Linked DNA regions of Homo sapiens: region 1 is linked to region 2. Evidence: fine-mapped expression QTL. A gene starts in region 2. The other region holds a variant in brackets. All regions are shown on one strand. Distances are between the middles of the regions.

Region 1 (5,312 bases), 28 kb before region 2:
GTCTCGAGGTCCTTCCTAAGGTGTCCAGTGTTGCACACAGCAACACAGCACTTCTGCTTATATTCAGTTGGCCATTAGTCACATGTACTGACAAGTATCTCCCTGGCTGCCTTCAGGGAGCTCTTGGCCAATGTCCTAAAAGCTTCCCCACAGCTTTCTGGCCATTCACTCAGACCGGACCCTTCCTCCCTACCACCATTCAAAGCTGTCCCAAAATCCACGGTCCCTCACAACACCTTTCTCAAGTAGCTGAAAGAAAGGCAGTGGTTACAGGACCCTTCCTTCTCAGCGGGTGACCACAGGACCCTGCCGCCCCATTCGACTCACATAAGCATAAAACACATCACCGAATCACAAACTGCAGGCATGCTTCTACTTTGCATAGTTTCATCGGCTTGCAATCCACATAGACTGTGCTGTCAGGCATGAAAATTGTCCACAGAGGGGGCAGGGGGGTGCACATGGATCTGCACCTCATCCTTGGTCACTCTAAGCCACTCGCAGGCATTCTGTAGAGAGCCAATGGTGGCAGCGGTGGGGGGCAGAGGGTCTCCTAACCACTGACCATTCTGACTGCTGGTCCAGCTCCATCACCTTCCCCTCATTTTAACCCCAGGATGGAGGTCTACCTTAATCCCCACTGCTGTCATCTGCTGCCTCCCGGGGCCCATTTCCACCGTCTTTGAAGACATCAGCTTGTGATTCACATGATCCCTCACGACCCCATTTTCTCATTGTTTTGGTAACTTCATTATCTGCATTGGTAAACCAAAAGACACGCCATAACCACGTATCCCTTATCTTGTTTAGGTGGATATATGGCCACTTGAAATAAAGACATTTCCCAGTCTCTCAGTCTCAGACAGGTATGGCCGTGGGACTAATGGCCAATTGAATATAGGCAAAAGTGCTGTGTGCAACTTTGAGACATGTTTTTAAGAAGAGGAAATGCACCCTTTTCTAACCTCCTTTCATGCTGGATGGAGTGTGACTTGACGGCTAGCACACAGCAGCCAGCCTAGGTCATGAGGTGAAAGCCACTTACTGATCTCAAAGGAAAAAGAGGCATCTGACCCCTGATACCATGCACTATTGCACCCTCTCCAAGCTGCCTGTGCCTGTGAAAGGATTCTAGCCCATCTTGTTTAAACCACTGCAGTGACCTAACCCTTACTGACTCCCACCACCATTCCACACTATTATACTTCTGTAGCTTTATACTGTTTTAGGAGATCCAGTGTAACTTCAGATTTACATACCCTCTGCCTCTAGCATCTCAGGAACAGAAACTCTCAGGACAGGCCCCATCTTCTCCTTTCACCACCTAAGTTTCTCTGCTTCAATCACCTGGTGAGGCATTGGCCTGCGAGAGAGCAAGTTCTATTAACAGTAGAGAGCTCAGGAACCCATCCACCCACTTATGGAAACTTGGTATATGTCAGGAGAGTTCTACAGACCAGCGAGAAAGGAGAGACTGTTCAGTAAACAGTGCTGGGACACCTGGTTACAAAGAAAAACAAAATTAGGTCCCTACTAAATACAATCATAAAAATACATTTCAGATGAACTAAAAATCTTATTATGAAAATAAAAATTTAGAAAACCTTGAGGGTAGGGAAGGATCTCTTAAAACAAGATTCAATGGCATAAGCCATACAAGCAAAAAACTGATAGATTTAATAACATTAACATTTAAAAATTACTTGGGTCCAGCAAAACACTCCTAAAGGCAGGGAAGAGAGGCAAGCCACAATGTACCAGACATTTGCAATGCATATAATTAATCAAAGATTAGCATCTCTCCAGAATATATATTTTAAGAGGCTTAAATATCCGTAAGACAAAAAATCCAAGTGAAAAATGGGCAGAGGATATGAACAAGTAACAGAGAAGGAAACTTGGGCTGGGCGCAGTGACTCACACCTGTAATCCCAGCACTTTGGGAGGCCGAGGCGGGTGGATCACGAGGTCAGGAGATCGAGACCCTCCTGGCTAACACGGTGAAACCCCATCTCTACTCAAAATACAAAAAAACTAGCCGGGCGTGATGGCAGGCACCTGTAATCCCAGCTACTCAGGAGGCTGAGGCAGGAGAATGGCATGAACCCGGGAGGCGGAGCTTGCAGTGAGCCAAGATCACGCTGCTGCACTCCAGCCTGGGCGACAGCGCGAGACTCTGTCTAAAAAAATTAATAATAATGAACAGAGAAGGAACCTTGTACAGCCAATACACATATGAAAAGATAATTATAAAACCTAAAGGAAATGACACCCATCCAATCAGACAAGATGAAAAGTCTGATGACACCAAGTATTATAGAGTTGGGGAACTCTCAGATTGCGGATGGAAGGATAAACAGACACATACTTGGAGGGTAATTGGGAATGTCCAGTCAATTGGGGGAATTCCAATACTTCCTCAAATCCACACAATGTGATGGGATGCTCACTGCAGCACAGCTGTAATACAGAAACACTGCAAAACCCCTACAGGTCGATCAATAGCATATAAACAGTAGAACTCATACAATGGAACACTATACAATAGTTAAAATAACTGGGCTGGGCACGGTGGCTCACGCCTGTAATCCCAGCACTTTTGGAGGCCAAGGTGCGTGGATCACCTGCAGTCAGGAGTTTGAGACCAGCCTGGCTAACGTGGTGAAACCCCGTCTCTACTAAAATACAAAATTAGCCAGGCATGGTGGCGGGCAACTGTAATCCCAGCTACTCAGGAAATTGAGACAGGAGAATTGCTTGAACCCAGGAGGCAGAGG[T/C]TGCAGTGAGCCAACATCACGCCATTGCACTCTAGCCTGGGTGACAAGAGCAAAACTCCATCTCAAAAAATAAATAAAATAAATGAACTGGAGCTACATTTATACATGCCTCCAGAATGCAATATTTTAAAAAATTATCAAATATGTACAGTATGATACCATTTCTGTAAAGTTAAGAAAACATGCCAACATACAAAACAAAACTAACCATAGATGAGAAGGGCAGAAATCGACTTCAGGACAGGAGGCGGAGGCAACAGGACTGGGGCCACATACAAACAGGACTTCAGAACGTGGGTTTTATTTCTAAAGACAAATCTGGAGCAAATATGGAAAGATATTAGTTGACGGGTTACACGGGGGAGATACAGGTGTTTGAACACCAGTACCCTGCTCTTGTTCGGCATGTTCGAATGCTGTCTTTTACAAATTCTCTCATTTTTCTTCTTTGCCATTTGTGTTCTGGGTTCATTTGTCTCCCTGCTCTCTGGGGACCTCCAAGTAGCATCTCCTCCAGTGTCTTTGTTCTCTCCAATGCTCTTCCCTCGTCTTCTCACATGTCCTTGTTTTCTCAGTCTTAACACTTCACCCTAACCATCACCAGGCCCCTTCATTTCTTCCTCCCTCGCTGTCTACTTAAGGGCCCCCAATTTCTGCCTTTACCTCTGAATGTGGTCTCCACCCAGCAACCCTTGGCCAGGCCTTTGAAAGACCTCAAGCTTAATGATTCAAAATATATGTCCAATCCCATCTTTGGAAACCCCACCCTAAAACTGCTCTTCTGAAGATAAACACTGCCATAATTGCCAAATTGAATAAGCTTTTCAGTTTTTCTTTCCCCTTAACCTCTTGCGAGTTGTCACCATCAGGGACCATCCCTGTCTGCTTTACCCGCTCCCCGCTGTGGCTTCCATGACGGCAATGCCCCCCATCCCAGGTCTCTGACCTGCACTACTAATCAGTGGGATTCCACCCGCCAGTGTTCGGCCTCCTCTGTCCTTCCTTCTTAGGGCACCACATTTTCCTCTGCCCTTCCTCAAACAGCCTGGGGGAAAGCAAGCTCCTGTCAAATGTCAAGATACACAATTCTCATTCCTCTCATAATAAAGATGCATTGTCCCGGCACTCATGTTATTCCTGGAACAGGGAGACAGGGGTACCAGTTTGAACCCCAGGGCACACTTGCGTCTTCTCAGCTGTCTGATATACCTAACACCTGCTTGATCTCGGCTCATTGCAGCCTCAGCCTCCTGGGCTTAAGTGATCCTCCCACCTCAGCCTCCAGAGTAGCTGAGACTACAGATGCATGCCACCATGCTTGGCTAATTTTTAAATTTTTTTTTGTACAAAGTCTCACTATGTTGCCCCGGCTGGTCTCAAACTCCTGGGCTCAAGTGATCCTTCCGACTCGACCTCCCGAAGTATTGGGATTACAGGTGTGAGCCACTGTGCTCAGGAAGAGGCACTTCTGAGATTCTCTTTGCAACCCATGATTGATGTACAGAGAAGGCAAAGCCAAACTGTCCACTCTCCCACCACAGTGCCCAGGGCCAAAGCCAGAGAAGGAAAGGAGAGTGGTTTCTGAGCTCAGGCCCTCACAGGCTTCTGCAGAGGGTGAACACTTGCTGAAGGAACCACTGGATGTTTTGGCAACCACCTGGCAGTGTCTGTGCCACCGTGCACAACTGAGTCCAGGGACCTGCTCAGCATCCACAGCCTTACAGCTCAGGGCTGGCAGATGTCAGGCCACCCTGCTCTCCTAACTCCTTTGCTTAGGAAACTTTCTAGTTAAAGAAATGTGTGCAGAGAGGCGAGATCATTAAAAGTTCCTTCAAACAGGGCAAACTGCCTCCATCCTGGGCTCACAGCACAAGTTATCCCAGGGGTGCCCAAGATGCAGGGAGAGGGGTCAACATTTACAACGGACCAAACTCCAAGATTCTAACAGGACTCATCTATTTATTGATATTACTATTAAGCCACTTCCCAGCAGTGTGACTGCCGTAACAAGAACAGGACTCAGTTTCTAAAGGCAATAAAATAACAAGGACATCATGGACAAAGCATTGGGAACACTCCTCGTAGGGAACTGGCTTTTCCTCTCCAGCCAGAGCACCCAGGTGCCAGGGGCCACTCCCGAGCACACTCTTTGCGCATCTCAGCCCTCATGCCGGATGCTCTTCTCCCCGCCCTAATCTGACCTTCTCAGTTCATCTGGATAAACCTGCTGTGCTTCCTGTCCGTGAAGCGAGGCGCTCCCCAAAGCGGGAGCCAAAGTCTGGTGATGAAACAGCTGGCACCAAAGAGCTGGTTCTGCCTCCTCCTCACCAAGTAAACACGTACTTTATTTTTTAAGGAAAGAAAAGTCTTAAAAATATATGGCACTAGAGTGTAAAACTATACAACTGCATCCAATGAAAATTCCCTGCAGCTTGCAGCCTGTGGCACACCATGTCCCTCAGATGTAGAGCTGATGGGAGGCCAGGGTGTCCATGAACGGCCGCACCAGGTTGTCCGTGGAGAAGTAAAAGATGA
Region 2 (5,379 bases):
GATGGGGTTTCTCCATGTTGGTCAGGCTGGTCTCAAACTTCCGACCTCAGGTGATCCACCCACCTCGGCCTCCCAAAGTGCTGGGATTACAGACATGAGCCACAGCACCCAGCCTGAAATCATTCTTTTCTCCAGACATTAACATGATGGTCATCCCATCTCCAGGATTGGAGCCCAGTGGAAAATGTTCCTCTCGGGGCCTCTCAGCCTCACCCCCGCCTTTCCGCAGCTGTGGCAGCTGGGAATAGAACAGGTGGGAATACTTGCAGAAATATTTGCTGTCTTATCAGTCCCCAACTAAACAGTGTCCGAAAGTCAAAGCAACAGCTGAAAACCCGCCAGAGATGTTTTCATTAGACACACTGCATGTGACCTACACACACTGCTTTGGTTTCTTTAAAAAAATTTTGTTTGTTTGTCAGGAAGTTGCTCATGGGGACTCCACAAAACTTTCCCAGCAGTAGTGGAGAGACACGGGTAGGAGTTGAATACAGGAACCTCCTGCGCAAAAACTCAAGAGATAAAGACAGTGTAGCCAGCTATGTTCAAATCCTGGTGCTTAAAGCACTGAAGCCACATAACTGGACTAGCTGCTTAACTCCCTGAACTTGTTTCCTCTTCTGTAAAAAGGTAATAATAAACTATTTCAGTGTCATTGAAATTCTTAAGATCTTAAATTCTAATATTCTGTACAAGATAGCTTTTTATTATGACCAACTCATAAGCGAGATATATGTCATTATTAACATCGATAACAGAGAAAGGCCAAAGTAGGCAAGAGGCAAACCCCCCTTGGGGGGACGGTGAGCAGCTACGGAGGGGAGACAGGTGTGACATTATGCACCACAGCTCCAGGCACCCCAGCAGCAGCCCCTAGCCCTTGCTCCTCCTCCTCCTTGCTGCTCTTTCAAATAGACAGGAACAAGCCACTCACTCCCCACATGTGAACATGCTGGACTCAAGACTTGGCACATGGGCACTTCAACACCAAAGGGTACAGAGTTTTCCCCAAAAACCTGATACATCCATCCCACTTCAAAGCAACATGCCCCCAAGCCCTCACTCCAGTCTCTGCCCTGGAACCCAAGGCTCAACGTGGGCGTCGTGAGGACGCAGCTCTGAGGTGGGGCCAAGAACCAGGCCCCTTCTGCACCTGCGCCAGTCACCGGCTGCCCACAACCACATTCAGGAGAGAAGAACCTGAGGCTCACACACCTGAAGCAGCTTATCCCGAGACTCCAATTACCGCCAAAGGTCTTGGCTGAAGGCCTTGGAGGCTCAGGTGTCTGCAGAATTGGCTACAGAGGCATCAGAGGCTTCCTTACTGGAAGCTGGGGTCGGTCCTAATCAAGTTACTTCGTAGACAGCCTTGGCAACCCCAGGCTGTCGCTTCTGAGTTAAGTTAGTCTACAATCGTCTCTATGGAATGCTCTCAGGTTCTCCATTTGTAAATAGGGATGCAGTTACTTCACTCAACACCGTTCATACCTTTCAAAGGGAATACTTATTAAGGCAATAAACAGGGGTGAGGTCTGCTCGGAGGGATGGACAGCAGATCTAGAAGCCAGGACACTGGGGTCGAAGCCTGGCTCTGCTATATCGTACCTGGGCGACCTTGGGAAAAGTCACTTTAGCTCTGTGGCCTCAGTTTCTTCATCAGTAAAATTCAGAGGGGGGACTAGCTTCTGTCTCAGGTTCCTTCAGCTCCAAAAGCTTGCTTCTGGCTGTCTCCTCACTGCTGGAAATGCCTGATAAAACAGCCAAACACCGCTGCTAACAGAAACCGGCTCTAGGCTTGAGCCTGCGGCCCTGCCCCTCACGTGCGGGCAGAGCCCCCGCGCGCCTCCTTCCCGGGGAAAGCATGCCCAGGACCCGGTGCTAGAGGCCGAATGGACTCGGCGCAACGGAGGTCTCCGGCGAGAGAGAAGAAGAACAAAACGCCCCCGCCTGCTACACGCCTCAGAGACCCACGTGCACCGCTCCTTTAAATGCACCGGCCCTTTAACCGCTCGCGCCGCGCCCACCCCCAGCCGGGGCTCGGCGGCAGGCGGGCGCAGGGAAGTGGGGACGCAGTGAGGCCGAAGGCCTGAGGGCCGCTCCCCGCGATCCTTCCACGACCCAGTTCCGGGCCGGCCCAGCCGCCGCCTGCCGGGCACTCTCCTCTCTCCGCCCCCGCGCTGGCCGCAGAGGCCAGGAGCGCTGCGCACGCAGGGGCCGCAGACCCACAGCCGGGGAAGGGACCGTGGCCAGAGGCGTGCGGAGGGCAGGGCAGGGCCCTCAGGGCGCAGCCCCACCCCGGGCCCTCAGCGCCGCAGGCGACAGGGCCCTGGCCTGGGCACCCCCCGGCACCGCCCGCTCACCTGCTCTGCCGCCGCGCTCCAGCGGAGTTTACGCAGCTGGCTGAGCGCCCGGCCGGACCCGGCGCCGGCCCAGGCCCCGCCCCACGCCCGCCCAGGCCACGCCCGGTGGGCGACGCCGCGTTCCCTCGTCCACTGGGGCCCCACCTGGAGTCCCGGGCGCGCGGGGAGGGTGGCCTTCACGCCGCGTGGATGACAGGGTCATCCCGACGTCGGAACTAAGCGACGACCTTAGAAGGAGTGGAGGCCGGGCCTGTCATCTTCCTGCGGGCCTGGCAGCAGCGTGGGGCGGTAGGACATAGGCTTCGAGGACACTCTTTCTTGTAGTTTTGGGTCCACATCCCCTCCTCCTCCCGGTTGTTCTCACATTAAAGGAGCACTAATGGCCCAATGTGAGCTAACACCATGAGAATGTTCCTGGTCTGTTCCCTAGGGCGCTTCAGAGCCACCAGGAGCTCTGCATAAAATTGAACAGGAATAAATTGCTGCCTGACCTGAGAATTGGCCTAGGGGGTTGTGGTTCCAGGATTTGGGGTCTGTGGGGTAGGTTGAGATTGTCAATAATTTGGCGTTGTCTGAGTAGTTTTACTTTTTTTTTTTTAACTTAAGGTGAAATTCACATAACATAAAATTTACCATTTTAAAGTGGGCATTTCAGTGGCATTTAGTGAATTCACAATGCTGTGCAACCACCACCTCTGTCTAGTTCCAAAACATTTTCCTCATTCCGAAAGAAAAACCCCATACCCATTGAGAAGTTTCTTCCCAATGCCCTCTTCCCCCCCAGCCCCTGGCAATTACCAGTCTACTTCTGTCTCTATATTTACTTACTTTAGATACTTCATATAAACGGAATCACAGTGTGTGGACTTTTGTGTCTTTCACTTAGCATGTTTTCGAGGTTCATCCTCAGGTAGCATGTAACAGACTTTATTCCTTTTTATGACTGAATAGTGTTTGTGTGTGTATATGTATATGTGTGTGCGTGTGTGTGTGTGTATCATGTATGCCACAGTTTATTCATCTATGGACATTGGGGCTGTTTGCATCTTTTGGCTTTGTGAATAATGCTACCATGAACATGCATGTACATGTATTTGTTTGAGAGCCCATTTTTATTTGGGGAGGGTACATACATAGGGGTTGAATTGTTGGATCGCATGGTAATTCAATTTTTTTTTTTTTTTGAGACAGAGCCTTGCTCTGTTGCCCAGCCTAGAGTGCAGTGGCCGCAATCTTGGCTCACTGCAACCTCTGCCTCCCAGGTTCGAGCAATTATCTTGCCTCGGCCTCCTGAGTAGCTGGAGTTACAGGTGTGTGCCACCACATCTGGCTAATTTTTGTATTTTTAGTAGAGATGGGGTTTCCCCATGTTGGCCAGGCTGGTCTTGATCCTGAACTCAAGTTATCTGCCTGCCTTGGCCTCCCACAGTGCTGGATTATAGGCATGAGCCACCGTGCCCAGCCTTCAGTGTTTAACTATTTGGGGAACCCCAAGTGGTTTCCACGATGGCTGAACCATTTTATATTCCTACCAGCAATGTACAGGATCCCAATTTCTCCACATCCTCACCAACACTTGTTATTTTCCATTTTATTGTTATCCTAGTAGGTGTGCAGCGGTACCTCATTCTGGTTTTGGTTTACATTTTCCTAATAACTAATGCTATTAAGCATTCTCCTTTTCATGTGTTTGTTGGCCATCTGTATATCTTCTTTGGAGACATGCCTATTCAAGTCCTTTGCCCATTTTAAAATTGGGTTGTCTTTTTGTTGTTGGGTTGTAAGAGTTCTTTATATATTCTGGACACTAGACCCTTATCAGATATATGCTTTGCAAATATTTCTCTCCCATTCTGTAATTGTCTTTTTCACTTTCTGATGTCCTTTCATGCACATAAAACTTTAATTTTGATGAACTTCAGCTTAACTGTTTTTTCTTTTGTTGTTTGTGCATTTGGTGTCCTGTGTGAGATATCATTGTCAAATCCAAGGTTGTGAAGATTTACTCCTGTGTTTTCTTCTAAGAGTTTTATAGTTTTAGCTCCTATATTTAGGTTGTTGATCCATTTTAAGATAATTTTTGTATGTAGTGTGAGGTTAGGGTCCAAGTTCATTGTTTTGCATGTGGACTTCTAGTTGTCCCAGCACCATTCGTTGAAGAGATTGTCCTTTTCCTATTGAATTGTCTTGGCTTCTTGTCAAAAATCAATTGGCCATAGATGGATGGGGAAAACCAAATATTTTCAAAGAGCTGTTTAAATGCAGATTAACCCTGGATGGAACTGGGGCAGGCCAGCATTTTGGCTAAGAAAATAATGGTCCAAATAATGATCTTTGATAAATTTGAGAAATTAATTACATTTAACAGAATTATAAAAATAATCGATTCTTGGAAAAGGAAGGACACCTGAAGGTCACAAAGTCCAACTCTAACTGATGCATATGAGCCCTTGCTACAGAATTCCTGGGAAATAACTCCCCAACCTGGTTTGTTGTTGTTGTTGTTTTGAAACAGGGTCTTGCTTTTTCGCCCAGGCTGGAGTGCAGTGGCACGATCTCAGATCACTGCAACCTCTGCCTCCCAAGTTCAAGTGATTCTCTTGCCTCAGCCTCCCAAGTTAGCTGGAATTACAGGTATGTGCCACCCTGCCCAGCTAATTTTTGTAATTTTAGTAGAGAGGGGGTTTTTGCCATGTTGACCAGGGTGGTCTCGAATTCCTGACCTGAAGTGACCCTCCCGCTTCGGTCTCCTGAAGTGCTGGGATTAGATTACAGGCATGAGCCACCGCGCCCATCCCTGATTGGTTGTTGTTGTGTTGTTGTTATTTAGCTTTCAGTGTTGCACTTGATAGGCTGAATTTCCCCTAATGTGAAGAGGCTGCATATGCCCTAAGGTGAAGCATAATGACTCAATAAATGAGTTAGGAAGTTGTGATATAATAAAAATAAATATTTGGTCTTTATCCCCGTTCCTGGCACAAGCTTCTAAAACCTTTGGAATCTCAGGTGTGATGAATGT

Direction of the effects. Positions count from the first base shown, and alleles are read on the strand shown. Sizes are in standard deviations (SD) of each study's normalised expression.
With allele C in place of T in region 1, the expression in visceral fat of the gene that starts at base 2,394 in region 2 is higher (small effect, 0.40 SD a copy in GTEx).

Evidence for each region. PIP is the estimated chance that this variant, and not a neighbour inherited with it, causes the effect.
Region 1: its variant is the best candidate, but not a certain one, in a credible set for the expression of PSEN2 in visceral fat (GTEx, PIP 0.73).

Annotation. Positions count from the first base shown.
Region 1 is chr1:226,895,503-226,900,814 of GRCh38, reverse strand. PSEN2 (presenilin 2) reads right to left here. Exons shown (of 13, transcript NM_000447.3): 13 at 4,717-5,312. The coding sequence ends at 5,236. Among named protein-coding and RNA genes, the nearest start is that of PSEN2, 28 kb to the right of the region's middle. RefSeq lists a silencer at 4,690-4,921. The variant T/C (reference allele first, on the strand shown) is at 2,778.
Region 2 is chr1:226,867,631-226,873,009 of GRCh38, reverse strand. PSEN2 (presenilin 2) reads right to left here and starts at 2,394. Exons shown (of 13, transcript NM_000447.3): 1 at 2,361-2,394; 2 at 1,606-1,748. It overlaps LOC105373119 (a long non-coding RNA gene), which reads left to right and starts at 2,460. Exons shown (of 3, transcript XR_949226.4): 1 at 2,460-2,648. RefSeq lists silencers at 1,932-1,981, 1,992-2,591.